Linked DNA regions of Homo sapiens: region 2 is linked to region 1. Evidence: fine-mapped expression QTL. A gene starts in region 1. The other region holds a variant in brackets. All regions are shown on one strand. Distances are from middle to middle.

Region 1 (15,611 bases):
AACCAGGCTCTTCCATTCCTCAGAAGCCATATAAGATACAGGAAGCACAAGACAAAGAATCTAAACAAGAAAAAAGCGTACCACAAAGAACAGAAGGAAATTTCCAAGTACTTTAAGCTATAGAACAACTTAATAAGAATATGAACTTAATAAAACAAGAATGCAAAGATGAGATGTGAAAACAGCAGAATTAGGTAAAAAGGAAGATTGCAAACTAAAGAACCCATTAGGACAAAACAACATTATAGAATAAATTATAAATAGAGTGAAATAGAAACATGTGGCTAAAAATTGAATTATGGACAGAGGAAGGGCTTCAGATAATTACATTGACGGGAAATGAAAAAGAAGAAATTAAATGAAATAACTATATGTACATATATATGTATATACATACACACACACATATATATATTCTTAAGAAAGAATAAAATGTTTAGATCTAAATAGCATAACATGTCCTGGGAAGTTTGATTGTCATTTGAAAGTTCGTTATTTCACAGTGCTAGAATCTGAGATGATATTTTATCTTATTCTGTGTACTTTATTGCATTGCATTGCTTCTTTATAATGAGCATGCATCATTTTTATAAAAATAGTGAAATCATTTTTCTAAAAAATGTAGAGAGAATATAATGTACAAAAAGCCACATTCACAATATTAACAAAAACTATGAAATATTGGGGAATACAGCTAATAAGAAATGTATAAAATCTATAAAGAAAACCACACACACACACACACACACACACACACACACACACACACACACACACACGAAAAATGACAATTTTCCTGAAGAGCACAAAAGAGGATGTGAATAAATTTTAAAAATACTACATGACCCTGGGTGAAAATACTTTATTACTAAGATTTTAATTATTCCTTAAGTTGATCTATAAATTCCTTTTTTTTTTTTTTGAGACAGAGTCTTACTCTGTTGCCCAGGCTGGAGTGCAGTGGCACAGTCTGGGCTCACTGCAACTTCCACCTCCAGGGTTCAAGCGATTTTCATGCCTCAGCCTCCCGAGTAGCTTGGACTACAGGTGTGCGCCACCACCCCTGGCTAATTTTTGTATTTTTAGTAAAGACGAGGTTTCACGATGTTGGTCAGGCTGGTCTTGAACTCCTGACCTCAAGTGATCCACCTGCCGTGACCTCCTAAAGTGCTGGGATTACAGGCATGACCCACCACACCCAGCTTAATCTATAAATTGGATGCAATCCTAATGAAAAGTCCAACAAGATTTTTTAAAAATGAAACTTGGAACTTCACTTGAAATGCCCAAGGATATCCAAAAATAGTTGGAAAAAGCAGGGCAATGAAGGATTTGTCTTCCCCGACACCAAAACTTGCTACAAAACGACACCATGTAAAAGTGTGATATTGAGGCAGTTTATAACTATATATATTATCAGTGAAACAGAAAAGTCAATCGATGAAACAGATCTGAGTATAAATGAGAATTTAACATATGGTTAAGTTAGCTCTTTAAATTTATTGGGGAATAATGGACTATTATATGAATGGTGCTAGGATTTGGAGACACACACACACACACACACACACACACACACACACACACACACACACACACATATATATGCAATGACCCAGAAGCCATACAAGAAAAGGTTAATGTTTTGACCACATCATAATGTAAAAATTCTGGAGTTAGGTGCCATGGCTCCAGAATCCAAAGTGCTGGGATTATAGCCCTGGCTCATGCCTGTAATCCCAGCACTTTGGGAGGTCTGGGTGGGAGGATCTTTTGAGACCAGGAGTTTGAGACCAGCCTGGGGAATATAGTGAGACCCTGTCTCTACAAAACATAAAAATTAGCTGGGCGTGGTGCCATGCATTTGTAGTCCTAGCTACTCAGGAGACTGAGGCAGGAAGATCGCTTAAGCCCAGGGGTTCAAGGCAGCAGTGAGCTATGATCACGCCACTGCAGTCCAGCCTGGGCGACACAGCGAAACCCTGTCTAAAAAAGTAAAAATTCTGAATATCAAAAATACCATAAAATTAAGATGTTAGTGATAGATTGAGAAAATATATGTACAACCTATATAACAGAAAAATAACTAATATACAGAAATGTGTAAAGAACTACAAACCATTTAAAAAATACAGCTGAATAGGAAAATACTCAAAGGATATTAACTAATACTCAGAGAAGAAATGCAAATGGATGTTAAGCATGTGAAATTATGCTCAAGATAATAGATATTTAGGAAAATGTGAATTAAAAGGACAATCTTGCCAGGTGCAGTAGCTCACACCTGTGTGATCCCAGCATTTTGGGAGGCCGAGGTGGGTGGATTGCTTGAGCTCAGGAGTTCGAAACCAACCTGGGCAACATGGCAAAAACCCGTCTATACCAAAAGTACAAAAATTAGCTGGGCGTGGTGGCATGCGCCTGTAGTCCCAGCTACTGGGGAAGCTGAGATGGGAGGATCACCTGAGCTCAGGAAGGTCGAGGCTGCAGTGAGCTGTGATTACATCACTGCACTCCAGCCTGGGCAACAGAGTGAGAACCTATCTCAAAACAAAACAAAAAAAAGGACAATCTTTTGTTGACTCTTATATTGGCAATAATTACTAATACAGACGGTCCCCAATTTATGACAATTCAACCTATGATTTTTTTACTTTAATTGGTGGTGCAAAAGCAATACACATTCAGTAAAATCTGTACTTCAAGTACTCATACAACCATCCTGTTTTTCTTTCAATGTAGTATTCAATAAATTATGTGAGATATTCAACACTTTATTATAAAATAGGCTTTGCATTAGATGATTTTGCCGAACTGTCAGCTAATGTGAGTGTTCCGAGCATTTTTAAGGTAGGCTAGGCTATGATGTTTGGTAGGTTGGATGTATTAAATGCATTTTAGATTTATGGTATTTTCAACCTATAAGTTTATTTGAACATGACCCCATTATAAGTTGAGAAACATTTGTACACAGTGTGCATGAGAGTGTGGGGAAATAGATCCTGTCTTATGTTTGATGGGGGTATAAATTGGCCAAGCCTTTTTGGAGGACAGTTTGGTGGTATATCCATTAACTATATAAAATCTCACATCCTTCTTTTGGCAATATCAAATGTATAAAATCTCATACATTTAAGCAAATAATTATATTTATAGTAGAATATCCTAAAGAAATTCTTCTACCTGTTGGCAAAGCTTTATGTGCCAGACTGTTCATTGTAACCTTGCTTTATTAGCTCCGGATCCAGAACTCATAATATGCAGCAGTTAAAAAGAATGAAGCAGCTTTAAATGTACTGGTATGTAGAGCTCTTTGAGACATAATTTTAAATGAAAAAAAAGCAAGTTGCAAAACAGTATGTTAATTATGATCCTGGCCAGGCGTGGTGGCTCACACCTGTAATCCCAGCACTTTGAGAGGCCCAGGTGGTTGGATCACTTGAGGCCAGGAGTTTGAGACCAGCCTAGCCAACATGGTGAAACCCAGTCTCTACTAAAAATACAAACATTAGCTGGGCATGGTGGTGCGCACCTGTAATCCCAGCTACTAGGGAGGCTGAGGCATGAGAATCGCTTGAACCCGAGAGGTGGAGGTTGCGGTGAGCCAAGATCGCACCACTGCACTCCAGCCTGAGTGAAAGAGCAAGACTCCATATAAAAAAAAATCTCATTTATATATTTTAATAAGACATGTATGTGTATATCATGTATACAAAAGGTTAATACACCAAACTTAAAATGGAGAGGTAACTGTGATTTGGGTGAGGATAGGGGAGTGAAAGTGGTACTAGTGCTTTTTCTGGGTTTGACTATTCTTTTCTTTTCTTTTCTTTTCAGAGACAGGGTTTCACGCCATTGCCGGTCTGGAGAGCAGTGGTGCAATCATAGTTCACTGTAACCTTGAATTCCTAAGCTCAAACAATCTTCTTGCCAAGTAGCCTCCCAAGTAGCTAGGACCACAGGCATGCACCACTAAGCCCAGCTATTTTTTTTTTTTAATAGACAGGTTTCCCTATGTCGGGAAACCTATGTAGGGTGGTCTCAAACTCTTGGCCTCAAGTAATGCTCTTGCCTCAGACTCCCAAAGTATTGGGATTATAGGCGTGAGCCATCACACTTGGCCTTGGGTTTGAATTTTATACTAGAATTGTACTCTTGTGGGATTTGTATGTAAAGTAAACAGCAAATATTAAAACACCCCAATTATCTTTCCACTGGGATACACAGAGCTAACTCCATCAGCCACATTGTATAAATATAACATGAGTTATTTAATCTCTCCCCTATCAATAGCCATTTTATGTTGCGTCAGGCTTTTTTTTTTTTTTTTTTTTTTTTTGACAGAGTCTCACTCTGTCAGCCAGACTGGAGTGCAGTGGCGTGATCTAGGCTCACTGCAACCTCCATCCCTTGGGTTCAAGCCATTCTCCTGACTCAGCCTTGCAAGTAGCTGGGGTTATAAGCGCCTGCCACTGCGCCCGGCTAATTTTTGTATTTTTAATAGAAACGGGGTTTCACCACGTTGGCCAGGCTGGTCTTGAACTCCTGACCTCGTGATCCACCTGCTTCGGCCTCCCAAAGTGCTGGGATTACAGGTGTGAGCCACCGTGCCCGGCTGCGTCAGTTTTTTCAAACCTTACAAGCATTGCGAAAAAAAAAAATTCTAGTAAATATATCTTTGTGAAACTGTGTAGGCATATAGGTTGGCTAAATTCCAAGGAATAGAATTATTGGGTCAAAGAATTTGTGAAATATTATAGTTATCATTTAATAGAGTTTGCCAAATTGCCCTATATAAAAAGCTTGCATCAATATCTGCCTCCAACAGAGTAGAGGAGTGCCCATTTCTTGACAAACCAGTCAACAATATTATCAAGTTTCTAAACTTTGAGAAAATCATACTTGAAACATGGTAAGGCATAGTTGCTTTGATTTGCATTTCTTTGTTTGAGCATCTTTTCATATGTTTATTAGTAATCTATTTCTTTTCTGTGAACAAATCTGTTCATGTCTTTTGGCACATTTTTCTATTGGGTTGTTTATCATTTTACTAATGATCTGTAAGAGCTTTTAGATTATTACAAGTTAGCCTTTTGACAGTCAATGTTTATGGTTTTTTTTTTTTACTTTACCAAAGTTTAAAATTTGTATGCAATTAATTTATCAATATTTTCCTTTGGTGGAGAAAGTAAGTTCGTCACTTTCAATTGAGTTCTGAAAAGCCATTAGTAAGATTGTAAGGCACTAGGACTTCCTTTCTTGGCTCCTGAAAGGGCCTCCTCCACACAGGGGCCCCTCACAGTGGAGCCCCTCCCTCTGGGGTGTCCTATTTCAATGTTCTAAGAAAGAGGCTGCCTGGAGGGTCTATATTTGGAGTATGACTCCTCAGCGGGGACAGGTGGATGCGTGGGGACTAACTTCTGCATATTTGGTCCCTGAGTTTTGGGATTATTCTGAGGGGCTTGTATGGGAGGTGCAGTGAAGTTGTAACACAAGGCAGGACATGAAAAAACTTCTTTTTCTTGGCAATTGCTTGGGATCCTGTACATTGCCCTTCCACTTGTGAGGGAAAAAAATAATGACACGGACATCAGGTGTGTTGCAGTGATTCACAGTCATCCACAGACCCTCACCACCATCTCCACTGGAAAATATTGAACACTCGCCACTGCTAGGGTAGTATGTAGTACATGAATGGCAGACACCGGCGAGATCTCAAGTGTTACGACGGATGAAAATTCCACCTGTTAAGTCTCCTTTCCATCCAAGCTCTAGCAGTTGGTTGTTCCATGGGTGTGGTGAGGCTGATCTGATTACATGCTTATGTAAAATCCAAATAAAGCCCCTTGAATGGAAAACAGGTTAATTTGGGAAGTCACTAGTAAAGCAGGTTAATTTGGTAAGTCACTAGTAAAGCACTAGGCTCATCAGGAGTTGGGTCTTAAATATATCCTCTAGAAGTCTTCTCTGAAGAAGGTCTTAGACACCTGAAAAAAGATGCTGAGTTCAGCCAGAACTTCAAAAGTTACAAATCACCTGTGTAAAATTGTCAATATTAGAAAACGAAATGTCTTTCCAAAGATTAACTTATAGATCATATTGAATACGTGCTGGTTTTGTTTAGGACAATTTTGTATTTAAAATGTCAAGAATTACTAGTCAATTTTGAAAGCTGTAAAATAGTTTGCAGTAACAGAAGACATTTTAAAATGTGGCACAAAATAATGTAAACAAAAGAATGAGTCTTTTGTTATTTTTACACCCTGAATATTTTTTGTGTCAAATGAAAATGGCTATACTGTATTTTCTGATTACAATATTAGAAAAGAATGTCATATTAAAAGAAAAAAAAGGAACACGAAAAAGAAAATTAAAGCTCTACTTGCACCTTCTGCTTTCCTTCCTGATACCCCCTTCCACAGCCCATTTGGTGCAGGCATTGTACTTAGAGAGGGCAGGTCGTGTAGGGGGCGGGTGGGGAGTGCTGGTCTTATAGTCTAAGAGAGAAATAAGTGATTACTCAAAGAAGAAACATAAAAGGCCACAGCCAAGGGCCGGGAGTGGGTAGGGGGATGCAGACCCTCCCCTGTAACTGAAGATGGGTAAACTCCAACCACAAGGCGATGATGCCACTTGTGGGCCCTCAGATTGGAGAGGACGGAGATGAGTGACAACGCGTGCGCACTGGGGCACCGAGCACAGACCAGAGAACGGGGATGTCTGTGCGTGCGGAGTGGAGGAGGGGGGAGTTCCTGGTGACTGGCCGCCGGCCCTTGGTGGGTGGTAGGGGGTGCTGGGGAGGAGGGCGAGCTCGGCGGTGACGCGCGGTCCTCACGTGACCCGGAGCTGCAGAGCTACGCAGCCTTCGTTGCAGTCGTCACTCGCATCTGGCTACCAGCTCCCCGCTGCCCTGCGCTCGGCGGGCTGGCATCGGGCCCGGGGAAAGCGGAGCAGGTAAGGGCCCTGGGGCCCGCGCGCCCTGGCCAGGCCGGCAGAAGCTCACTGACCCCGGCAGCGGTTACGGGGCTTGAGGGGGCGGTGGTCTATGCTGCCTCAAGTTCGAGGAGCCTTTGCCTCTGATTCTCCCTAGCCCCCTTGCCCCCGCCTACATCTGTGCAGGCGAACCGTGGGCTTTGATTTGTGGGGAGATTGTCTCTGCCAGAGGGAAATACAGAGATTGAGATGCCCATCGCTCTAATCACTGGCCACACATGTCCGCTCGCTTCCTGCTCAATTTAGTGGAAGGGATGCGCCACGGTGGCGTTTGCAGAGAAAATGGTGGGCCTTAGAGACTGGACGGTGGGGTTGGTAAGGGTGGTGTCTCAGACTGTGGGGAGGGACGTTTGATAACCAGGTTCCTGAACCCGGAAAGGCGAGTATTGGGATCTATGTCCTGGGCTCTAGACCAACACTAAGTGGTTTTACTCTCTCCTGTCTGTCGGACAGTAGTTCGGTGTAGCACTGTTTGCGGCGAGGAGAAAGGAAGGAGAGGAGAAAACTGCACTGGATCAAGGAGGTTAGTGTGAGTACAGACACTATCTAAACCATTGGAGTTCCATATGAATTCTATGACAGGAACTTAGGTGCGGCTGTCTGAATGGGATGTGGGGTGGGGCTAGCTTGGGGACTTTCCCTAAACTGCATTTTACTTACCAAGCTTAGGACTTTTAAATTGTATGTTGAAGACCAATGAAGACAGCAAACTTTTCTACAGATGCTTTTATTTGCATTTCAGATAATATTGAGAAAAAGATAAATTATATTAAAGAATATTATTATTATTATTATTTTTTAGATAGCCTTTGGTGGGGAAGGATAGTGATTTTGTAGAAGCAAAAGGCTTCCCCTATAGCTTTTCTCTTCTGCTGGAGACTCCTAGAGATAGGTTGAAAGGGACGTGGACAGCAGTAGGTTGTGGTTCTAGAGTATGGGATCTGGGGTCTCCCATCTCTCCTGCCATCCTTCAGTTTTCCAGATCCCTCTACCTACCTGACCATCTTGGTGAAGGAAATGGTGGGCTTTTGGGGAAATCCCTAGAACCCTACAGGTGGTTTTAAAATAATTTGCCTTGTTGGGCCTAGTAGCTCTTGCCTGTAATCCCAGCACTTTGAGAGACCCAAGCAAGAGGATTGCTTGAGCTCAGGTGTTCAAGACCAGCCTGGGCAACATAGCGAGACTTCATCTCTACATATAATTTAAAAATTAGCTGGGTATGGTGGCACAGTCTGTAGTTCCTGCTACTTGGGAGGCTGAGGTGGGAGGATCTTTTGAGCCTGGGAGGTCGAGACTGTGGTGAGCCATGATCTTGCCACTGCAATCCAGCCTGGGTGACAGAGTGGGGCTCTGTCTCAAAATAAATAAAAAATAAAATAAATAAAATAAAATAAAATAAAATAAAATAACGTGCCTCTGTCTGTTGCCTTTTACTTTTCCTGCCTCCCTTTTCCATCCTTCCCATTTCAGTGCTGGGGAAGCCCCAGGCTTTTTTTTTTTTTTTTTTCTGCCAGCAAATGGGTCTCTAAATCCAGGCAGGCAGGTACAGGGACCTATGTCTTAGATGGTAAGTGTCACAAGTACTTAACATCCACTCTCTTCTTTTTCTCCATCTGTTCCAAGGTCTTCCCATAGGCCTGCAGTAGGGCTGTTTACCATTGGAAGCAAGGGAAAGAGGAGGAGATCAATCTAGAAGCATGGAGGTTGGTGTGAAGTGGGGGTAGTCTCTGGGGATGACAAGAGAGGGTGGGCATAGGAGGTGGGTGAGATTTAAGAGGGTCTCAGTGGAGTGCTGGATTGCCACAGTGCTGCCATGCCTCCTGTGGATTTCAGTGCAGGAAATGATAGGAATATGGGGGTAAGGGTGGGCTGGAGTATGACTGGGGGAAGACTTGATGGGGGGACCATGAGATGGTACACATTAGTATATAGAACCTGGGCTCTGGCGAGGCAGACATTGGGGTCAGGGATCAGGTTGCTTGTCTGTTCTACCAGGGACTCGGTTTCCATTACCTACTGTTTGTTTACTTGTCCATAGATCTGCCTGCATGTCTGCTGCAGGGCTTAAGATCACTGGAAGCAAAGAAACAAAGAGGAGATTGCTCCTGATCAGTATAGACTGGTAAGAGTGTGGGGACTGCCTGGGTAGACCTCTAGAGTGGGTTGGTGGAGACCAGTGTGCATCCAGTAAGGACCAGTGACCAGTCTGGAGGATGAGGATCCTCAGTCTCTCCTTTTCCAGCCACCTTTCCCACCATCCCTGTCATTTACTCCATACCCTCACCTTAATTCTGGTACAGGGAAAAGAGTGTGACAGTGTCTTAGGGAGTGGGGTGGACTGAGAAACGTAGAAAGGTAGTTTGCTAATAATATGTCTGTCCCATCAAGAACAAACTCTCTACTCCCATCTGTCCCTCCATCTGTCTGTCTGTCTCTAGGTCCAGAGATCTCATGAATTTATGTATCTACTTTAGGGTGTACTGCCAAGAGAAGCAAGAGGAGAGGAGGGAACTGCCTCGGATCATTACAGGTTGGTATGAGGGTGGGGCCCTGTAGACAGGTGACCAGAGTAGGTCCAGTAGAAATCAAAGTCTGGGACTTCTTGGTTGCTCCCATTTATCGTCAGACCTCCTACCATCCTTTCCACTGTTCATTTGGTGTATAGAAATGTGTATAGAAGTATCTTGGAAGAAAATTATTGGGCATTGGGGAAGGTGGAGAGAAGATGAAATAAGAGGAATGGAGAGGCTGCTAATCATCCTCTCTTCCACCAAGCACATGGTTCTACCATTTTCTGTTCCTCTGTGTATCTATCTGTATGATGCAACAAAATCAGAAGAGAAATTTTAGTCCATTTCCTTCCTCCACTTCTAGGTCCACCTCCAGAGGCAGCTGTAGTGGCCTTTGAGTGGCTGAAGACCAGCACCCTCACAGGCCTACACCCACAACTACCACTCTCTTTACCCCAGCCCGAGTGCGCTCTACCATACCTTGTTCGTGCTTTTAGCAGGGGTGATTACATGGGCCGCATTCAGGAAGTGGGCTGGGTGACTGCAGGACTGGTGATCTGGGCTGGCACCTGCTACTACATTTACAAATTTACCAAGGGAAGAGCCCAGAGTGTGAGGACTCTTGCCAGAAATGGATCCACAGTTAAGATGGAGACTGTGGTTGGGGTACAGAGCCAGACCTTGGCCATAAATGAAGCAGAGATTAAGACTAAACCCCAAGTCGAGATTGGAGCAGAAACTGGAGCAAGAAGTGGGCCTAGGGCTGAAGTAGAGACCAAGGCCACTGCTATAGCCATACACAGAGCCAACTCTCAGGCCAAGGCAATGGTTGGGGCAGAGCCAGAGACTCAATCTGAGTCCAAAGTGGTGGCTGGAACACTGGTCATGACAGAGGCAGTGACTCTGACTGAGGTCAAGGCCAAAGCCAGGGAAGTGGCCATGAAAGAAGCAGTGACCCAAACTGATGCTGAGGCTGGCAAAATAGTTAAGAAAGAAGCAGTGACACAGACCAAGGCTAAAGCTTGGGCGCTGGTTGCCAAGACAGAGGCCAAGAGAGAAGCAATGACCCAGACCAAAGCTGAAACTCATATATTGGCTGAAAAAGAGACAGAGATTAACAGAGTAATGGTTACACAGAGTGAGACCTTGGCAGTACCCAGGGAAGTGGCCAAGATGGGGGCCACGAACAAGACTGGAATTGTGGATGAAACCAAGACAAGAGCTCTGGAAGAGACTGTGAGTGTGGCTAAGACTCAGTCTGAGGCCAGGCCTGGTGCCACAGTTGATGCTAGGGGAAATCCCAATGGCATGTCCAGGGAGGTGGCTGGAGTGGACATGAAGTCCTGTGCACAGTCTCAGGCTGTGACCAAGATCCAGGGTGATGACATGCCTGGTACTGGGGTTGAGGACATGGGGAATTGTAAAACCATGTCTAGGGCAGAGTCTGGGGCAGACACGAGGGCTTCTGCTCAGCCTCAAATTTTTGCCAAAACCCAGACTGAGGCCATTCCTGGGGCAAAGATTGATGCCGGGGGTAACACCAATGCCATGTGTAAGGTGGGGGCAGGGGCAGATGTGAGAGCTTGTATACAACCTCAGACTGTGGCCAAGAAACAGGCTGAGGTGACGTCTGGTGCCAGGGTTGATGGTAGGGGAAATACCAATGTCATATCTAAGGCAATAACTGGAGCTGACATGAGAGCTGCTGCTCAGCCTCAAGCTGTTGCCAGTACTCACGCTGAGGCCATGTCTGATGCTAAGGTTAAGAACAGAGGCAATCCCAATGCCATGACTAAAGCAGGGGCCAAGGCAAACTTGAGGGCCAATTCCCAGGTTGAGGCCTTGCCTGATGCCAGGGATAAGAGCAGAGGCAATCCCAATGTTATGGCTAAGGTGGGGGATGGGACAGACATGTTGTCCTGTACACAGCCTCAGCTTGTGGCCAGTGTTCAGGCTGATACCTTGTCTGATGGCAAAATTAAGGTCAGGGGCAATGTCAATACCATGCCTAAGGAAGGAGCTGGGGTGGATATGAAGGCTCAAGGTATGGCCCAGAGCCAGGGTGAAGCCTTACCTAATACTAGAGGTAAGGCTAGGGGCAAAGCCAAAGCCAAGTGTAAGACAGGGCCTGGGATGGACATGAAAACCTGTACACAACCTCAGGCTGGGGTCAAGACCCCAGCTGAGGCCTTGCTTGATTCCAGGGTTGATGGTAGGGGCAATCCTAATGCCACTTCTAAAGCCGGGACTAAGGCAGACCAGAGGGTCTGTGGTCAGCCCCTGGTTGTGGCCAATCCCCAGGGTGAGGCCTTGCCTGGTGCCAAGAATAAAGTCAAGGGCAATCCCCATACTGTGCTTAAGGTGGGGGCTGGAGAAGGTACAACAGACTCTGCCCAGCCTGAGGCAGTGGTCAGTTTCCAGGGTGAGGCCTTGCTTGGCACCAAGAATAAAGTTAAGGGTAATCCCAATGTTGTGCTTAAGGCAGAAGTTGGGGAAGGTGCAATGGGCACTGCCCAGCTTCAGATTATGGCCAGTTCCAAGGGTGAGGCCTTGCTTGATTCTAAGAATAAGGTCAAGGGTAATTCCAATGCTGTGTCTAAGGCAGGGGCTGGGACAGATACAACAGGCTCTGTCCAGCCCCAGATTGTGGCCAATTCCCAGGGTGAGGTCTTGCCTGGTGCCAAGAATAAGATCAGAGGCAATCCCACTACTGTGCCTAATTCAGGGGTTGGGCCATATACAACAGACTCTGCCCGGCTCCAGGCTGTGGCCAATTCTCAGGGTGAGGTCTTGCCTGGTGCCAAAAATAAGGTCAAGGCCAATCTTAATGCTGTGTCTAAGGCAGAAGCTGGGATGGGTGCAACAGGCTCTGTCCAGCCCCAGGCTGTGGCTAATTCCCATTGTGAGACCTTGCCTGGTGCCAAGAATAAGGTCAGGGGAAATTGGAATGCTGTGTCTAAGGCAGGGGCTGGGATGGATACAAGGGGCTCTGCCCAGCCCCAGGCTGTGGCCAATTCCCAGGGTGAAGTCTTGCCTGGTGCCAAGAATAAGGTCAAGGGCAATCCCAATGTCGTGTCTAAGGCAGGGGCCAGAGAAGATACAGTGGGCTCTACCCAGCCTCAGGTTTTGGCCAGCTCCCAGCGTGAGACCTTGCCTGGTGCCAGGAATAAGGTCAAGGGCAATTCCAATGTTGTGTCTAAGGCAGGGGCCAGAGAAGATACAATGGGCTCTGCCCAGCCTCAGGTTGTGGCCAACTCCCAGCGTGAGACCTTGCCTGGTGCCAGGAATAAGGTCAAGGGCAATTCCAATGCTATTTCTAAGGCAGAGGCTGGGGCAGGCATAATGGGCTCTGTCCAGGTCCAGGTTGTGGCCAGTTTTCAGGGTGAGGTCTTGCCTGGGGCCAAAAATAAGGTCAGGGGCAATTCCAATGCTGTGCCTAAGGCAGAGGCTGGGGCAGATACAGTGGGCTCTGCCCAGCCCCAAGCTGTCGCTAATTCCCAGAGTGAGACCTTGCTTGGTGCCAGGAATAAGGTCAAGGGCAATACCATTGCTGTGCCTAAAGCAGGGACTGGGGCAGGCACAAGGCACTCTGCCCAGCCTCAGATTGTGGCCGGTTCCCAGGGTGAGACCTTGCCTGGGGCAAGGGACAAGTCTATGTCCACTTCTGAGGCAGAAGCCACAGCAGAAGATGAGGCCTATGCAAAGCCTGAGGCTGAGGCCATGCCCACTTCTGAGAGTGAGGGTGGGTCAGGCACTCAAGCCTGCAGAAAGACTCAGCCTAACATCCATGACTACTACTGGAATGGGATTGGTGTTGAAGACTGGATTGCTGCTGAGCGGTGGATCAAATTTAGGTTTCAGACCATGGATGGAGACTGGGAAAATAGCGTGTCCTGGGCTGATGATGAGAATGAAGCCAGTATTGGGTCCTGGAGTGGGGCTAGTGATAAGGCTGGGATTATTCGGTCTTGGGCTGTGGCTTGTGATGAGACCAGTGTTAAGTCCTGGGCTGGGGCCAGGGCTGAGAATGTGGTTGGTATTGGGACTTGGGCTAGAGCTGGGGAGCAGGCCAGTGGAGGGCTCTGGGCTGGGGGTCAGACTAGTGAGGGGACCTGGGCTGGGGACAAGGCCAGTGGAGGAGCCTGGACTGGGGCTGAGAACCAGGCCAGTGGGGGGTCTTGGGCTCTCGCTGGGAATCAGGCCATTGGAGAGCTTTGGGCTGCGGGTCAGGCCAGTGATGGGTCCTGGCCTGGGGGACAGGCCAGTGGGGTGTCCTGGGTTGGGGAAGAGGCCATTGGAGGGTCCTGGACTGGGGCTGAGAACCAAGCCAGTGAAGGGTCTTGGGCTGGAGCTGGGGCTGGGAATATGAGTAGTGTTTCATACTGGGCTGGGGTTGTGGATCAGGCCGGTGGAGGGTCCTGGGCTGGGACTAGTGATCAATCTGGTGGTGGGTCCAAGCCTAGATTTGAGGATCAAGCCAGTGGAGAAGGGTCCTGGGCTGGGGCTGGTGGCCAGGCTAGTGGAGGGTCAATGTTGGGGCCTGAGGACCAGTCCAGTGGAAGGTCTTGGGCTGACACTGCAGACCAAGCCAGTGGAGGGTCTAGGCTGGGCCACGTAGATCAGTCCAGTGGTGGGGCCTGGGCTGGGACACTTGATCAGTCTGGTGGTGGGTCCAAGCCTAGATTTGAAAATCAGACCACAGAAGAAGGGTCTTGGGCTGGGGCTGGTGGCCAGGCTGGTGGAGGGTCCAAGGTGGGGCCTGAAGACCAGTCCAGTGGAAGGTCATGGGCTAACTCTGGGGACCAAATCAGTGGAGGATTCTTAGTTGGGATTGTGGACCAGGCCAATGGAGGGTCCTGGACTGGGGCTGGGCATCCAGCTAGTGTTGGGCCAAAGCCTATATTTGAGGATCAGGTCAGTGGCAGAGGGTCCTGGGCTGATGCCAGGGAGCAGGTTGTTGGAGATTCTAGGCTGGGGCTTAGGGACCAGTCTAGTGGAGATTCCTGGGCTGGCACTGGGGACCAGGCCAGTGGATGGTTCTGTGTTTGCCCTGGGAGTCAGACGAATGGAGGGTCTTGGGGTGGGGCTAGTGGCCAGGATGTTGGAGGGTCTAGGCCAGGGCCCACGAACCAGTCCAGTGCTGGGTCCTGGGATAGCCCTGGGAGTCAGGTCAGTGGAAGCTGCTGGACTGGGGCTGGGGCTGTGGATCAGGCTGGTGGTTGTTCCAAACCTGGATTTGAGGATCAGGCCATTGGAGGGGGGTTCTGGCCTGGTGCTGGGGACCAGACTGGTGGAGGCTCCAGGCCAGGGTCTGAGGATCAGTCCAGTGGAATAGGTTCCTGGGGTGTGGCTGGTGGCCAGGTCCTTGGGGGAGCTAGGCCGGGGCCTGCAGACCAGTCCAGTGGTGGGTCCTGGGCTGGCACTGGGAATCAGTCCAGTGGAAGGTCCTGGATTGGGCCTGGGGATCAGGCTGTTGACTGTTCCAAGCCTGAATTTGAGGATCAGGCTTGTGGAGGAGGCTCCTGGGCTGGTGCTGGGAGCCAAGCCAGTGGAGAATCCTGGGCTGGATCTAGGCCTGGGAATGAGGCCATTGGAGGATCTAGGATGGGATCTGAGGACCAGGCCACTGGAGGATCCTGGGCTAGATCTGAGGACCAGGCCAGTGGAAGGTTCCAGGTCAGTTTTGAGGTGGAGGCCAATGAAGGATTCTGGTTTGGGCCTGGAGCTGAGGCCGTTATAGGGTCTTGGTGCTGGACAGAGGAAAAAGCTGATATTGTGTCCAGGCCTGATGATAAAGATGAGGCCACTACTGCATCCAGATCAGGGGCTGGGGAAGAGGCCATGATTTGTTCTAGGATTGAGGCTGAGAACAAGGCTAGTAGTGGCTCCTGGATTAGATCTGAGGAGGTGGCTTATATGGGCTCCTGTGTAGGGGCTGAGGCTGGGGCTGGGGCTGAGGCTGGGGCTGGGGCTGAGGCTGGGGCTGGGGCTGGGGCTGAGGCTGGGGCTGAGGCTGGGGCTGGGGCTGGGGCTGGGCCTGGGACTGAGTCTGGGGCTGGGATTTGGTCCTGGGATGGAGATGCAACCACTGTAGAGTCTAGGCTTGGG
Region 2 (15,611 bases), 68 kb before region 1:
TTTTCAAAGAATATATAGCTCCATAAATCTGTCTGAATTTCAGATCATCTCCTTAGGGCACATAACTGAAATGTATTTGCTGTCAAAAGGCGTGATACATATTATCAAATTGCTTTCAGGATATAGTGGGGTTTATCAAAAAGGAAATAGTTTATATCAATTATCACTCTTCTGGTAGTGTATTAGTTTGTGAACTGCATAGCACTGATTTACTGTTGCTGTTTAATTTCCATTATCTTGATGGGTGAAAAATAACGATTAGTTCTGATTTTAACTTGCTGGAAGATTGATTAAATTTGAACATTTCCCAGATTCCTCTCCTGTATCCTCCTATACCTGTATTCTCTCATACTTAATCTGTTATCAAGTCCCGCAGATTCCACTTTTTTTGGTATGTGTAGATACATCTTTTCTCCATTTTACTCCTGTTGCCTTAGGCGATTCCTTTAACATATATTTATGAGACAAGTTCTAACTAATCTCCCTAGTTCCACGTCGACCCCCTTCTGTTTGAGTGCCACGCTGTTGCCAGGGTGATCTGTCTGAAAGAGTTTTGGTGAAGTCACCCTACATACTCCCCGGTTTAAAAGTCTTAAAAGGCGCTTAGTGTTTGTATATCAAAGTCTTTGGGATCTGATCTATGCCTTGCCAGTCTTTTCACTTGCTTTTCCCTCTCCTATTTGTGCTTCATCATAATTAAGAAAAAAAAATGTTTATGGATCCCTGGGCAGATTAGTCTGTTTCATTTAACCATTTGGCCTCCAACCAATAGAACTGATCAACTAGTCCCTCTTTGATACTATGCTTACACTCCACTCAGAGGGTCATGGCAAGTATAATGTATATTTGCATTTACATCTTTAATAATGACATTCGGTGCTCCTGTAGGACCATAAGCCCATTCTGGGCTTATTGATTCTTGTATGCCAGAGCCGAATATTGGACATGGCAACTAAAAAATGTTTCTAAAATGAATGTGTGAATTCCCAATAATGTCTTTTTTTCATTTATCTCTGGAGCCCAAATATTTCCCTGATTTTATTGATTTGCATACATTTTTATATAATGAAGATATTATATAAAGAACTTACATAACCTGTGTTTTGTTTGTGTTTTAATTGTTGTTTAATCTTTTGATCTAGTGAAGTTTTTTATGTTTATATATTCAGATATAGCCATCTTTTATTTGTTGACATCTCCCACTGATTTGTTGCTGTTAATTTTTTTTTTTTTTTTTTTTTTTTTTTTGAGACGGAGTTTTGCTCTGGTCGCTGAGGCTGGAGTGCAGTGGCGTGATCTTGGCTCACCTCCACCTCCTGGGTACATAAAAGCGATTTTCCTGCCTCAGCCTCCCGAGTAGCTGGGATTACAGGCACCTGCCACCACGCCCAGCCAATTTTTTGTATTTTTAGTAGAGACGGGGTTTCACCATGTTGACCAGGCTGGTCTCGAACTGCTGACCTCAGGTGATACACCCACCTCAGCCTCCCAAAGTGCTGGGATTACAGGCGTGAGCCACCGCACCCGGCCGATTGCTGTTAATTTTTAATGGTATCTAACACGTAATAGGCATTGAATAAATAACTGCTAAAAAATGAATGAGTTAAAAATTTGGTGAACTCTCTGTTTATACAGACGTCTTACAGAAAAGCTGTCAGCATAATTGAATTTTCTATTAATAGTTTGCTTTTTTCTCTTACTATATCACGAGCATTTTTCCATGACAGTAGTCTTCTTTTTTTTTTTTTCAGCTACACCAAAATTGCATTGAGCCAAACTTGCCACCAAGAGCCCAACAATCACCATGATGCTGAGCACGGAAGGCAGGGAGGGGTTCGTGGTGAAGGTCAGGGGCCTACCCTGGTCCTGCTCAGCCGATGAAGTGATGCGCTTCTTCTCTGATTGCAAGATCCAAAATGGCACATCAGGTATTCGTTTCATCTACACCAGAGAAGGCAGACCAAGTGGTGAAGCATTTGTTGAACTTGAATCTGAAGAGGAAGTGAAATTGGCTTTGAAGAAGGACAGAGAAACCATGGGACACAGATACGTTGAAGTATTCAAGTCTAACAGTGTTGAAATGGATTGGGTGTTGAAGCATACAGGTCCGAATAGCCCTGATACTGCCAACGATGGCTTCGTCCGGCTTAGAGGACTCCCATTTGGCTGTAGCAAGGAAGAGATTGTTCAGTTCTTTTCAGGGTTGGAAATTGTGCCAAATGGGATGACACTGCCAGTGGACTTTCAGGGGCGAAGCACAGGGGAAGCCTTTGTGCAGTTTGCTTCACAGGAGATAGCTGAGAAGGCCTTAAAGAAACACAAGGAAAGAATAGGGCACAGGTACATTGAGATCTTCAAGAGTAGCCGAGCTGAAGTTCGAACCCACTATGATCCCCCTCGAAAGCTCATGGCTATGCAGCGGCCAGGTCCCTATGATAGGCCGGGGGCTGGCAGAGGGTATAATAGCATTGGCAGAGGAGCTGGGTTTGAAAGGATGAGGCGTGGTGCCTATGGTGGAGGGTATGGAGGCTATGATGACTATGGTGGCTATAATGATGGATATGGCTTTGGGTCTGATAGATTTGGAAGAGACCTCAATTACTGTTTTTCAGGAATGTCTGATCATAGATACGGAGATGGTGGGTCCAGTTTCCAGAGCACCACAGGGCACTGTGTACACATGAGGGGGTTACCTTACAGAGCCACTGAGAATGATATTTATAATTTCTTCTCACCTCTTAATCCCATGAGAGTACATATTGAAATTGGACCCGATGGCAGAGTTACCGGTGAGGCAGATGTTGAATTTGCTACTCATGAAGATGCTGTGGCAGCTATGGCAAAAGACAAAGCTAATATGCAACACAGATATGTGGAGCTCTTCTTAAATTCTACTGCAGGAACAAGTGGGGGTGCTTACGATCACAGCTATGTAGAACTTTTTTTGAATTCTACAGCAGGGGCAAGTGGTGGCGCTTATGGTAGCCAAATGATGGGAGGGATGGGCTTATCCAACCAGTCTAGTTATGGAGGTCCTGCTAGCCAGCAGCTGAGTGGTGGTTATGGAGGTGGTTATGGTGGTCAGAGCAGTATGAGTGGATATGACCAAGTTCTGCAGGAAAACTCCAGTGACTATCAGTCAAACCTTGCTTAGGTAGAGAAGGAGCACTAAATAGCTACTCCAGATATAAAAGCTGTACATTTGTGGGAGTTGAATAGAATGGGAGGGATGTTTAGTATATCCAGTATGATTGGTAAATGGGAAATATAATTGATTCTGATCACTCTTGGTCAGCTTCTCTTTCTTTATCTTTCTTTCTCCTTTTTTAAGAAAACGAGTTAAGTTTAACAGTTTTGCATTACAGGCTTGTGATTCATGCTTACTGTAAAGTGGAAGTTGAGATTATTTTAAAACTTCAAGCTCAGTAATTTTGAACACTGAAACATTCATCTAGGACATAATAACAAAGTTCAGTATTGACCATAACTGTTAAAACAATTTTTAGCTTTCCTCAAGTTAGTTATGTTGTAGGAGTGTACCTAAGCAGTAAGCGTATTTAGGTTAATGCAGTTTCACTTATGTTAAATGTTGCTCTTATACCACAAATACATTGAAAACTTCGGATGCATGTTGAGAAACATGCCTTTCTGTAAAACTCAAATATAGGAGCTGTGTCTACGATTCAAAGTGAAAACATTTGGCATGTTTGTTAATTCTAGCTTTTTGGTTTAATATCCTGTAAGGCACGTGAGTGTACACTTTTTTTTTTTTTAAGGATACGGGACAATTTTAAGATGTAATACCAATACTTTAGAAGTTTGGTCGTGTCGTTTGTATGAAAATCTGAGGCTTTGGTTTAAATCTTTCCTTGTATTGTGATTTCCATTTAGATGTATTGTACTAAGTGAAACTTGTTAAATAAATCTTCCTTTTAAAAACTGGAAAAAATCTTGAACTGATTGATTTTTATTATGTTCTGTCATATGGGCACACTGATTGACTTTACAATTCCCTCAAAGTTAAGATTTTTAATTTTAAAATTATAAATGATATTTAGCATCTTTATATGTTCATTGTTGCATATATCATTAATTATTTCTAAGATATATCCCTAGAAATGGGATTGCTGAGTCAAAGATATACTCATTTTTAAGGCTTCTGATTTGTGTTACCAGAAAGATTCTGGTACTTTATCTTTCTACTTGGAGTGTGTGTTTTATTTTCCCCCTTATACCCTCCTTATTGATGCACATTATTCTTTTTGAACTTTGCCAGTTTTTTAGTTGAGAAATGATATCTCATTGCTATTTTAATTTGTATTTTTTTGATTAATATTAAAGTTGTACATTCTTTTTTAAAAAAAACTTACCATGTCTACAGGACTATTGAGCTACTTTTGGAGACTGTACTTACCAAGATAGTATTCTCTAAAATCCAAAGAAGTGAAAGCAAATAAATAATCCTTTTTATTTCACCACAAACTAGAAGGCACGTTTGTATGTTTAAAAAGAAGTAGGCTTACAATTATGTGTTAAAAACAAAACATAAAAAAGAAGCAGGTTTATGTTATGGAAATAAATTGTCTCCTCCATGAATTCATTAGTAGATTCTCTATAAACACTCTCAGGTGTATTTTAGGGCATCTAAAGCTTATCTTAAACCAGCGGTTCTCAAACATTCATGTGCATCAGAATCATCTGCAGGGGTTGTTTAAACATTCATTTCTAGGCCCCATCCCTAGAGTTTCCAATTCAGTAGTTTTGGGATGTTGCTTGAGAATGTGCTGATGCTGCTGGTCTCAAGACCACGTTTTGAGACCCATCACAGTTCCCCAAACAGCAACTTTAAGGAGCAGCTTCCTTTATGATCCCTGATTGCCTCCCCTTTGTTCCCATAACAAGTAGTTTAAATTTTCTGTTAAAGTCCAAACCACATATTTACAATACCTCGCACCTCTTAATGAGGATTTTGAGCTGCTGTGGCATTGTGTGCTGATATCTTAGATTTCTGTCTGGATCACAGTGGTCATTAACAATTCCACCCCTCAATAACTTTAAGGCCCTGATGTCCCTCTTATCAGTACCAACTGTACCGTGAACTACAGATCTCTGTAGTTTCACTGACCCCTTGGGGACTGGATTGCTATACTTGGGCTGTTCAGGGCTTGGGGCCCAGAGAAATGAGATGGGAGGCAAATACCAAGTTGGTATTACCTGACTCCGTTTCATTCAGGAAATGAAAATCAATTCTAGAAAATCATTCAAGCTGAAGATGCAGTGAGACGTGATTGAGATTCTTTGATGACTTCTAATTTTTATCACAGCTTTCAGGAGAGCAAGAAATCCATTTTGACTCCTATCATGTTGAGCCAGTCCTTGCCCTTCAGGAAGCCTTTCTCAGAGGGTAAACAAGTAGGTGTTTTTGCCTTCCCAGGCTACTTAGTTAATTTTCCAGAAGTTTCTCTAAGTCTGAGCAAAGATTCTCAAGTTAGCCACTAGATGGCACCAAATCCCAGGAGACAATAGAGGGTTCTTTGTGATCTTAGATGTTCACTTACTCTTCTTCGCTGGCTAAGAAGACTCAGAAGGGCTCTGGGGAGCAAAGGAGAGAGAACCTGGAGAAGGTCAGCGGTCAGCACTAGAGGTGTGCAAAGGGACAGCAGTACAGCTGGTGTGCACACGCGTGCACACCCACCACCATTCGTGCTCCAACACTCACATCTAACACTACTACCCAGGAAAGTGATGGGAGGTCGAGTGGGCAGTCCACCCACAACACCCCCCAAACACTGAGTCAGAGGATTTATTTTCAACTGCGTGTGTGAGCTATTTGGCAGGATCAGGCAGAAAATTTGCAGCCACAGTTATCGTGGTCTAAGTATCCGATGGCTTGTGCCAGTGGTTCTCTGGGTGTGGTACCTGATCAGTAACAGCATGAACCTCCACCTTGTGAGATATGCAGATTCTTTTTGCCCCCCCGCCCCCCGCCTCGTCCCTTTCCCCCAAGGACTGAATCAGAAACTGGGTGTGGAGCCCAACAAGTTGTGTTTTGTTTTTTGTGTTTTTCTGAGACAGGGTCTCGCTCTTGCCCAGGCTGGAGTGCGGTGGTGCGATCTCAGCTCACTGCAGCCTTGAATTCCAGGCTCAAGTGATACTCCCACCTCAGCCTCTCGAGTAGCTGGGACTACAGGCGAGTGCCACCAAGCCCAGTTATTTTTTAAAATGATTTTTATAGAGACGGGATCTCACTATGTTGCCTAGGCTGGTCTCGAACTCCTAGGCTCAAGAGATCCTCCTGCCTTGGCCTCTCAAAGTGCTGGGATTACAGGTGTGAACCTCTGTCCAGCCAATAAGCTGTGTTTTAACAAGTGCTCAGGGTGGTTCTGCTGCAGGAAACTACTGGCTGATGGATACATGGATTCCATTATCCACCCATTCATTGATTCCTGCATTCACTCATCCAACCCTAAAGGAGGTAACCAAAACAGAGACAATCCCATGTGTAAGCATGACATATCTTCTCTGCCTTCTCTACCCAGCAAAATGATACGAAAATGCATTGCGAATATGTTTATAAATCAAGCTCCTTTTCCATCAGGTAGAATTCCTAGTGCTGTCAGCTAAAATGAAGATTTCTCCAAGATGGGCCTCCAGGGCTATTGCAAAACAGCTGCTGATGGAAGGAAATTCCACTTGCTGTGCCTTATACCAGGCTGGGAGTGTCACAAGAACCCTTTACAAGCTGCTCCCACAATGACCAAAACTGTCTTCTCATGAGTGCAAAGCAGGCATGCCCAAGGGGCCCAGGTTAGCATGGTGCAGGACTCCGCTGGGAAGGTGAGGGGTTATCGTCGCGGGGGAGTGTCGACTAACTGGGCTGGTGGTGCAGGGGTAAAATAATTTACCAAGACAGTTGGAGGTAAAGGCAGATTTATTAGAGAAAGTAGGAAAATACGTTTCGAGAAGGCAACGGGCAGCCTGCAAGAGAGGAGCCGACTGAAAAGAAACAAAGGCTTGCTGGAGATTTTATAGGATGGTTTTTGGGCTGATTGAGAAAACCAAGGCAGTAGGGAGCTAGCTTGCATTCTTCTGTTAGCTGGGGTGTTTGATAAATTGAGGCGTTTGATAGTGAGCAGGAAGTTTGTGAGTTATGTATGTTATCTGCGCAAGAAGCCACATGTCCTGGGCCATAAAGAAAAGCAGACCTATAGCTTATCTGATTCCTCTTTTTGTTTATATGTTCTGGACCATGAAGAAAGACAAACTTATAGCTTATTTGCTTTCTCCCTTTGCCTTCCCCTGCTCCAGCCAGCCTAACTCCTTTTTTCTAATTAGGATTCCACAGTTATGTTGTCCCTGTGCCTGCAGCCTGTGAATGGACGCCCCACCACCTCCGTCACAGCAGTGGTCAGCACAGATAAATGCACACAACACACATCGATCTGGCCCTCTGAGAAGAGAATGTTAGGCTTCTGAAAGAAGAGATAAATAGTGAGAGATAACATCTAAGAATCAAAATAATATATTCAGTAATTATTTTCTGAACCTATCCTAATGCTCTGACCGATACATTCTTTAGAACATCTACCCGTACATTCCAAGGACCCTTTTTCCACGGCCCTTTTTCTCCCTGTATCCCTCTTCCTGCTCCCCTTCTTTTGCACAGGGCATGTTTCACATATACAAGATGTTCTTACGTGTCATCCCACTTTAGAGATGAGGAAATTGAGTCTCAGGGAAGGCAAACATCAACTTTGTCTTGGGGAAAGGGCAGGAAGCTGGAAGGGAGGAGGAAATGAGCTCTGGCGAAGGAAAGAGGACATGGCTGGGATCCTTATGGGGTGGTGTACGAGTACCCGTGCCCCCCCCGATCTGTGGG[C/G]TGAGGGTGGCGGTGACTAGCGCTGGGACCAGCTCCTTCTCTCTCGCTCCCAAGCCCACAAGAATTCGGGGAGAAAGGGTGAGGTAGGGGGCTCCGGGAGAGCGGAGAGAGTTTGGAAAGAATCCATCCCTCCTTCTCCCCGGCGGCTTTCTCGAGACCCTCACACAGCGCCCCGCCCCGCCCCAGTACATTTCCTTTCAGGGAAAGGGACAGGGAAGAGGCTGTCGGGAAATGGCGGCCGCGGCCGGGCTGGGGCTTCAGCGGGAGGCAGCAGAGGGGAAGTGGTCAGCGTGGCGAATGACGGAAGGTGGCGAGGGAGAGGAAGAGGGGTCGGGTGTCCGCGGAGCTCCAAGAGGGAAGACAATCGCTTTGCCAAACACGGCAGGGCATCTGGAAAGGCCTGGGAACCTCACCCGCCCTCCCAGGCCCTTCGGGCTCTTTTCGGTCCCATTAGGAGGAGGGGGAGGGCGGCAGGTGGGACCGGGCACAGGCCTAGTCGTGCGACAGGAGAAGGGAAGGAAGGGCCGGCCCCAGCTGGGTCCTCCTTGCGTCTGGCCTGTGCCGGACGCCCCCGACTCCGAGTGATCTCGGGCCGGTCCCCGGGGGAGTCCAGCTTCTCGCGCCAGGGGAGTTCTCAGCCCCAGGGCAGTCCAGGGATTAGGCGGAAGGGGGCACGCAGCCACCTGGCCGGGGCAGGGGGAGCTGCGAGGAGCCTTTTTTTTTTTTTTTTTTCCTGCGCAGAGCCCCTTGCGTGACACACAGTAGGCGCTCAATACATGTTTATTTTCAGTTGAGTGTTGCTTCAGCTTTTATGGCTTGTGATAAATCCTTATCCTTCTGTTCTAGAAACTCGCATTGTCTACTGGATCAAGGACAGACAGCTCACCAACCGTGACAGCACCATACTGGAACTTCAAAAAGTTCTGAAAACATGTTGGTTCGTTTGTTGGAGTATTTTTCAACTTAAATTCCTTTTCCTTTTTTTTTTTTTTGCTCACTTTTTCCTCTGCAGAAAAACCTTAAAATGTTCTACCTTTTCCTTGAAACCTCCTCCCACTCCTTAGTTCACATTGACTTGTCTTTAAATGTTTTTGAGAAAATAATCAGAAATGCACAATTAGTGCTTGGTGGTTCTCAAATTATTTCACGCGTGGTAGTTTTGATTTTTGCTTTTCCAGTGAGGCTGTACCTTTCATCCTTAGGCAAATATGATGGCTTTCAAAAGCAGCTATGGGGTGGGAACTGGGAGTGGCTGCAAATGGGCATGGAGCGTCTTTTAGAGATAACGAAAATGTCCCAACTTAGATTGTGGTGATAGTTCGCACAACTCTATAAATTACTAAAAACTATTGAATTTGCACTTGAAAAGGGGGAGAACTTTATGAAATATAAATTATAACTCAAAGAAGCTCTTAAAATGCCTATGGAATAATAAGTAAAGAGTAGTGGGGATATGATCTATTTTGTGGGGAGACTAGCAGCAAAGTAAGACATAAAGATAAAGAAACATACACTGGCCTGAGGAAGTAACAAAGTCTCTTTGAGCAAACTTTGGACAGGCTCCTCTCAGCTTTCTTTTCAACTACACCTTGTCCTTGGGCCCTGTCCTCGGCCTGCCTAGCCCAGTTTTAGCAAGAGTCCTGCTGAGTAACTCCCTCACCCTTGATACCTGATCACCTTGTCCTGCCTTGAGCGAGAATCCTGTTTAGTCAGTTGAGCAAGAATCCCCCTACCCTTGATATCTCTCTCCCCTTAGGAATTTTCTTTCTACTGACTCCCTCACTCTGCTGCTTGACTGTAAATCCACACTTGTCCTAGTTGTCTTTGGATTGAGCTTAGTTCTATACTGAAGTCTCTTTTCCTCTATTATAATAGTACTCAAAATATGGCTTTACTGCTTTTGACTAGTATCTGGCTCTGTTTCCCATTGGCGGAAGGCACTCTCAGACAGTGCTTCTAGTAGTATATATTAGCATGACCTGCCAGGGTACAATTCTTTTTAAAAAGACCACCAATTGGCTGGATGCAGTGGCTCACGCCTGTAATCCCAGCACTCTGGGAGGCCGAGGCGGGTGGATCAGGTCAGGAGTTCGAGACGAGCCTGGCCAACATGGTGAAACCCCCATCTCTACTAGAAATACAAAAATTAGCTGGGCATGGTGGTGTGCGCCTGTAATCCCAGCTACTTGGGAGGCTGAGGCAGGAGAATCACTTGAATGCAGGAGGCGGAGGTTGCAATGAGCCAAGATTGTGCCACTGCACTCCAGCTTGGGTGACAGAGTGGGCCTCCGTCTCAAAAAAAAACAAAAACAAAAAAAAGACCACCAATTTATTGCCAGGCATTGTACTGGGTGCTGAGGAAATTTGAGGAAAAACACCTATTAAGTTCCTGTCCTCAAGGAGCTCATAGTACAGTGGGGAGCCAAGTAGCAAGCAAATAGCCATGCAAGTGTATAATTGCAATGAGGACAAGTATCATGAAAAGGAGGGTACATGGTGCAATGAGAGCCTATAAAATAGGGGTATTCGACTAGTCAAGGTGGTCAGGAATTGCTTCAAAGAAGCAGTTATTGAGCTGAGAGTTAAAGGAAGAATAGTGGCTAATTAGATTGGAGGTGAGAGTTGGAGGAGCTGGTTTGAGGCTATGTGTTCAGAGATGGCATGGTGAGTAAAAGAGACTGAATGAAAGTGGCTGGAGTTCAACAGGCAGTTGGGACAGCAGTGTGTTGGGTCAGGGCATGCAGGGCCTTACAAGCCATCTTAAGCCATTCAGTCTATATCCTAAGAGCCATTGGAAGCCCTGTGGGATGGGGAGAACGAATCAGATTTGTCTTTGAAAATATTGCCCTGGGGGCCAGGCACAGTGGCTCATGCCTGTAATCCCAGCACTTTGGGAGGCTGAGGCAGGTGGATCACCTGAGGTCGGGCATTCGAGACCAGCCTGGCCAACCAACATGGTGAAACCCCGTCTCTACTAAAAATACAAAAAGTTAGCCGGGCATGGTGGTGCATGCTTGTAATCCCAGCTACTCGGGAGGGTGAGGCAGGAGAATCGCTTGAACCCGGGAGGCAGAGGTTGTGGTGAGCTGAGATCGCGCCATTGCACACCAGCCTGGGCAACAAGAGCAAAACTCTGTCTCAAAAAAAAAAAAAAAAAAAAAGAAAGGAAAAGAAAATATTGCCCTGGCTACAGTGTGGATAAAGGATTGGGAAGGAGTCAGAATGTATGGAGAGTTTTATTAGAAGCCATTTCAACAATCTAGAGTAGAGGTAATAGTAGCTTGTACTACAATAGCCATGGTTTACATGGAGGGGATTGGTATATTTTAGGGTTTCTTAGGAGGTAAAATCTGCAGGACTTGGCAATGGATTGGAATTGGGAGGGAGGGAGTGTGATATTGTGAAGTACACATTTAGTCTTTAGTTTGTTTTGTGCTGCTATAACAATACCCGATAGTGGGTAATTTATAAACAGAAATTTATTGCCTTACAGTTCTGGAAGATAGGAAGTCTAAGGTTAAGGTGTGGGCAGGTTTGGTGTCTGGTGAGGCCATTCTCTTTTTCCAAGATGGTCCCTGCACACACTGTGTCCTCCAGAGGGGAGGAAGGCTAGATCATGACATGGCAGAAGACAGAAAGAAGGGCCAAGAGATAGAGCAAGAGGAGACCGATCTTGCCCTTTTATAATGGCATTAATCCCACCTGTGAGGGTAGAGCCCTCATGGCTTAATCACCTCTTAAAAGTCTCACCTCTTAATACTATTACTGCAACCGCCCAGTGGGTTCACCTTGCCTGCTGCCTAGACAGAGATTTATCAAGACAGGAGAGTTGAAATGAAGAAAGAGTAATTCACACACAGCCGGCTGTGCAGGAGACCAGAGTTTTGTTATTACTTAAATCAGTCTCCCAGAGCATTTGGGGGATCAGTTATTATTATTATTATTATTATTATTATTATTATTATTATTTGAGACAGAGTCTTGCTCTGTTGCCCAGGCTGGAGTGCAATGATGTGATTTCGGCTCACTGCAACCTCTGCCTCCCGGGTTCAAGCGATTCTCCTGCCTCAGCCTCCCGAGTAGCTGGGATTACAGGTGCCCGCCACTATGCCAGGCCAATTTTTGTATTTTTTAGTAGAGATGGGGTTTCACCATGTTGGCCAGGCTGGTCTCGAACTCCTGACTTCAGGTGATCCACCCGCCTCAGCCTCCCAAAGTGCTGGGATTACAGGCGTGAGCCACCGTGCCTGGCTGGGATCAGAGTTTTTAAAGATAACTTGGTGGGTAGGGGCTTGGGAAGTACGGAGTGCTGATCAGTCAGGTTGGAGATGGAATCATAGGGGGTCGAAGTGAGTCTTTCTTGCAGTTTTGTGTTCTGGGTGGGATGGCAGAACTGGTTGAGCCAGATTACAGGTCTGGGTGGTGTCAGCTGCTCCATCGAGTTCAGGGTCTGAAAAGTATCTCAGGCACTGATCTTAGGTTTCACAATAGTGATGTTATCCCCAGGAGCAATTTGGGGAGGTTCAGACTCTTGGAGCCAGAGGCTGCATGACCCCTAAACTGTAATTTCTAATCTTGTAGCTAATTTGTTAGTCCTGCACAGGCAGACTAGTCCCCAGGAAAGAAACGCCTATGATCAATTTTGTTTCAGAATCAAACCACAAACTGAATTCCTTCCCAAAGTTAGTTTGACCTATGCCCAGGAATGAACAAGGACAGCTTAAAGGTTAGAAGCAAGGTGGAGTCGGTTAGGTCTGATTTCTTTCACTGTCATAATTTCCTCAGTTATAATTTTGCAAAGGTGATTTCATTACAATGGCAATTAAATTTTTCATTTTTATTTTATTTATATATATATATTTTTGAGACGGAGTCTCACTATGTTGCCCAGATTGGAGTGCAGTGGCGCAATCTTGGCTCAGTGCAACCTCTACCTCCTGGGCTCAAGCGATTCTCCTGCCTCAGCCTCCCGAGTAGCTGGGATTACAGGCGCCCACCACCATGCCCAGCTAATCTTTGTATTTTTACTAGAGACAATGTTTCACCATGTTGGCCAGGCTGGTCTTGAACTCCTGACCTCAGGCGATCCACTGGCCTCGGCCCCCCAAAGTGCTGGGATTACAGGCGTGAGCCACCATGCCCATGGGGCAATTAAATTTTAACATGAGTTTTGGAGAAGACAAACATTCAAACCATGGTAGTCTTCATCCTCATTTTCGCGAATTACAGCTTTTAAAACCCTTAGAATCTCTGAGGTGATGAGAGTATCTTTTGCCCTGGGTGGTGGCTCACGCTTGTAATCCCAGCACTTTGGGAGGCCGAGGTGGGCGGATCACCAGGGGTCAGGAGTTTGAGACCAGCCTGACCAACATCGTGAAACCCCATCTCTACTAAGAATACACAATTAGCCGGGCATGGTGACACATGCCTGTAATCCCAGCTACTTGGGACGCTGAGGCAGGAGAATCGCTTGAACCTGGGAGGCGGAGGTTGCAGTGAGCTGAGATCACGCCATTGCACTCTAGCCTGGGCAACAAGAGTGAAACTCCGTCTCAAAAAAATAAAAATAAAAATAAAAATAAAAAAGTATCTTTTGCATGCTAATGAGATAACTGGTGGCTGAGGCTCCTAGGTAGATTTAGGACGGGGGCGCTGGTCAAGGCAGGATTAGAGAGTTGAGACTTTTTCACCACACCCCCAGCCTCTGGGGAAGGGAGAGGAGCTGAAGGTTAAATTGACTAGCAGTGGCCAATGATGTAATCAATCATGCCTACATAGTAAAGCCTCTATTTTATTTATTTTTTATTTTTATATTTTGAGATGGAGTCTCACTCTTGTTGCCCAGGCTGGAGTATAATGGCGTGATCTTGCCTCACTGCAACCTCCATCTCACGGGTTCAAGCGATTCTCCTGCCTCAGCCTCCCAAGTAGCTGGGATTACAGGCATGCACCACCACGCCTGGCAAATTTTGTATTTTTAGTAGAGACAGGGTTTTGCCATGTTGGTGGGGCTGGTCTCGAACTCCTGACCTTATGTGATCCACCCACCTCGGCCTCCCAAAGTGCTGGGATTACAGGCGTGAGCCACCGTGCCTGGCTGTAAAGTCTATAAAAACCCGAAAGAATTGGGTTTGGAGAGCTTCTGGATAGCGAACACATGGAGGTACCTAGAGGGTGCTGTGCTTGTAGGGGGCATGGAAGCTTGGTGCCCCTTATCCTGTACCTTGTCCTATGTGATTGTTCCATCTGGCTGTCCATCTATATGCTTTGTAATATCCTTTATAATAAACCTGTAAACATGTTTTTCAGAGTTCTGTGACCCTCTCTAGCAAATTAATCAAACCCAAGGGGAGGGTCATGGGAACCCTGATTTACAGTGGGTCAGTCAGAAGCATAGCTTACAACCTGGCATCTGAAGTGGAGAGCAGTCTTGTGAGCCTGAGCTCTCAAACTGTGGGATCTGACACTATCTCCAGGTAGGTAGTAACAGAACTGAATTCAATTAGAGGACATCCAGCTGGTGTCCACTGCAAAACTGATTGCTTGATGTATGGGAAAATTCTCCCATACATCTGGGGCTACAGAAGCATTCTATATTAAATAGAGAGTATAGGAAAATCCACATTTTGTTTACTCCCCCCTGTATCTTACAGTGAGAGTGAGCGGTCAAGGGTGACTTCTCAGTTTCTGGCTTGTACAACTGGATGTTTGGAGTAACAGCATTAAGAAGCAGGACCTTTAAGATCACATTGAATACTAAGTTCAGGTATGAGGACTGTGAGTTTAGTCTTAGACATACTGTGTTTGACGTGCCTTTGAGAACACCCAAGAGAATATAGGTAGTTGGATGGATGGATCTAGAGCTCAGAAGGGGCCTATATATTGGATATATAAATTGTGTGCTATATGGATATAGTTGATAATTCAAGCCATGTGTGGGGATAAGGTTGTCTAGGCCAAAGAGTATCAGAGTGAGAATGCAGGAGATCAAAGAAGGAGGCTTGAGAAACTCCAGTATTTCATGTGGAGTACAGGAGAGTCAGCCTGCAAAGGAGACTGGGAAACAGCAGCCAGGGAGGTTTAAAAGAAAGTTAGGAGGGACTTGTGTCATTGAAGCCAAAGAAAGAAACTGTTTCAAGATGTAGGGAATGGACTGTTAACAATGTCCATTGCTGCTCAGAGGTCAAATAAGATGTGGACTGGTAAATATGTGTTGCATTTAAGAATATGGAGGCATTGGTGTCCTGGATGGATCTATTTTCATGGAATGACGGGGCAGAAATCTAGAATGGAACAGATTGGAGTGTGGTTAGCAGAGAGAGGAAGGCACTTTTTTTTTTTTTTTTTGAGACGGAGTTTCACTCTTGTTGCCCAAGCTGGAGTGCAATGGTGCGATCTCGGCTCACTGCAACTTCCGCCTCCCGGGTTCAAGCAATTTTCCTGCCTCAGCCTCCCGAGTAGCTGGGATTACAGGCGCACACCACCATGCCCGACTAATTTTTTGTATTTTTAGTAGAAACGGGGTTTCACCATGTTAGCCAGGCTGGTCTTGAACTCCTTACCTCAGGTGATCCGCCTACCTCAGCCTCCCAAAGTGCTGGGATTACAGGTGTGAGGTACTGCGCCCAGCCGGTAGGCAAGTAATGGAAACAAAGAATATAGGCAGCTATTTGAAGCACTTTGGCTGTGAAGGGCATGGAAAAGTCAGGGTAGAAGCAGGAGCGAGACTACG

Direction of the effects. Alleles are on the strand shown, and positions count from the first base shown. SD is a standard deviation of normalised expression in the study named.
For the expression in thyroid of the gene that starts at base 6,880 in region 1, G is the low allele of the variant in region 2 and C is the other (small effect, 0.33 SD a copy in GTEx).

Evidence for each region. PIP is the estimated chance that this variant, and not a neighbour inherited with it, causes the effect.
Region 2: its variant is fine-mapped to the expression of ARMCX4 in thyroid (GTEx, PIP above 0.99). The same link has a PIP of 0.9 or more in skeletal muscle, subcutaneous fat and whole blood.

What each region holds. Positions count from the first base shown.
Region 1 is chrX:101,478,577-101,494,187 of GRCh38, forward strand. It overlaps ARMCX4 (armadillo repeat containing X-linked 4), which reads left to right and starts at 6,880. Exons shown (of 6, transcript NM_001256155.3): 1 at 6,880-6,954; 2 at 7,447-7,516; 3 at 8,617-8,696; 4 at 9,032-9,115; 5 at 9,468-9,523; 6 at 9,868-15,611. The coding sequence starts at 10,014.
Region 2 is chrX:101,410,185-101,425,795 of GRCh38, forward strand. It overlaps RPL36A-HNRNPH2 (RPL36A-HNRNPH2 readthrough), which reads left to right. Exons shown (of 4, transcript NM_001199974.2): 4 at 1,752-3,949. The coding sequence ends at 1,808. It overlaps HNRNPH2 (heterogeneous nuclear ribonucleoprotein H2), which reads left to right. Exons shown (of 2, transcript NM_019597.5): 2 at 1,752-3,949. The coding sequence starts at 1,805. The coding sequence ends at 3,154. It also overlaps a transcript of ARMCX4 not described here. Among named protein-coding and RNA genes, the nearest start is that of HNRNPH2, 9.8 kb to the left of the region's middle. The variant C/G (reference allele first, on the strand shown) is at 7,880.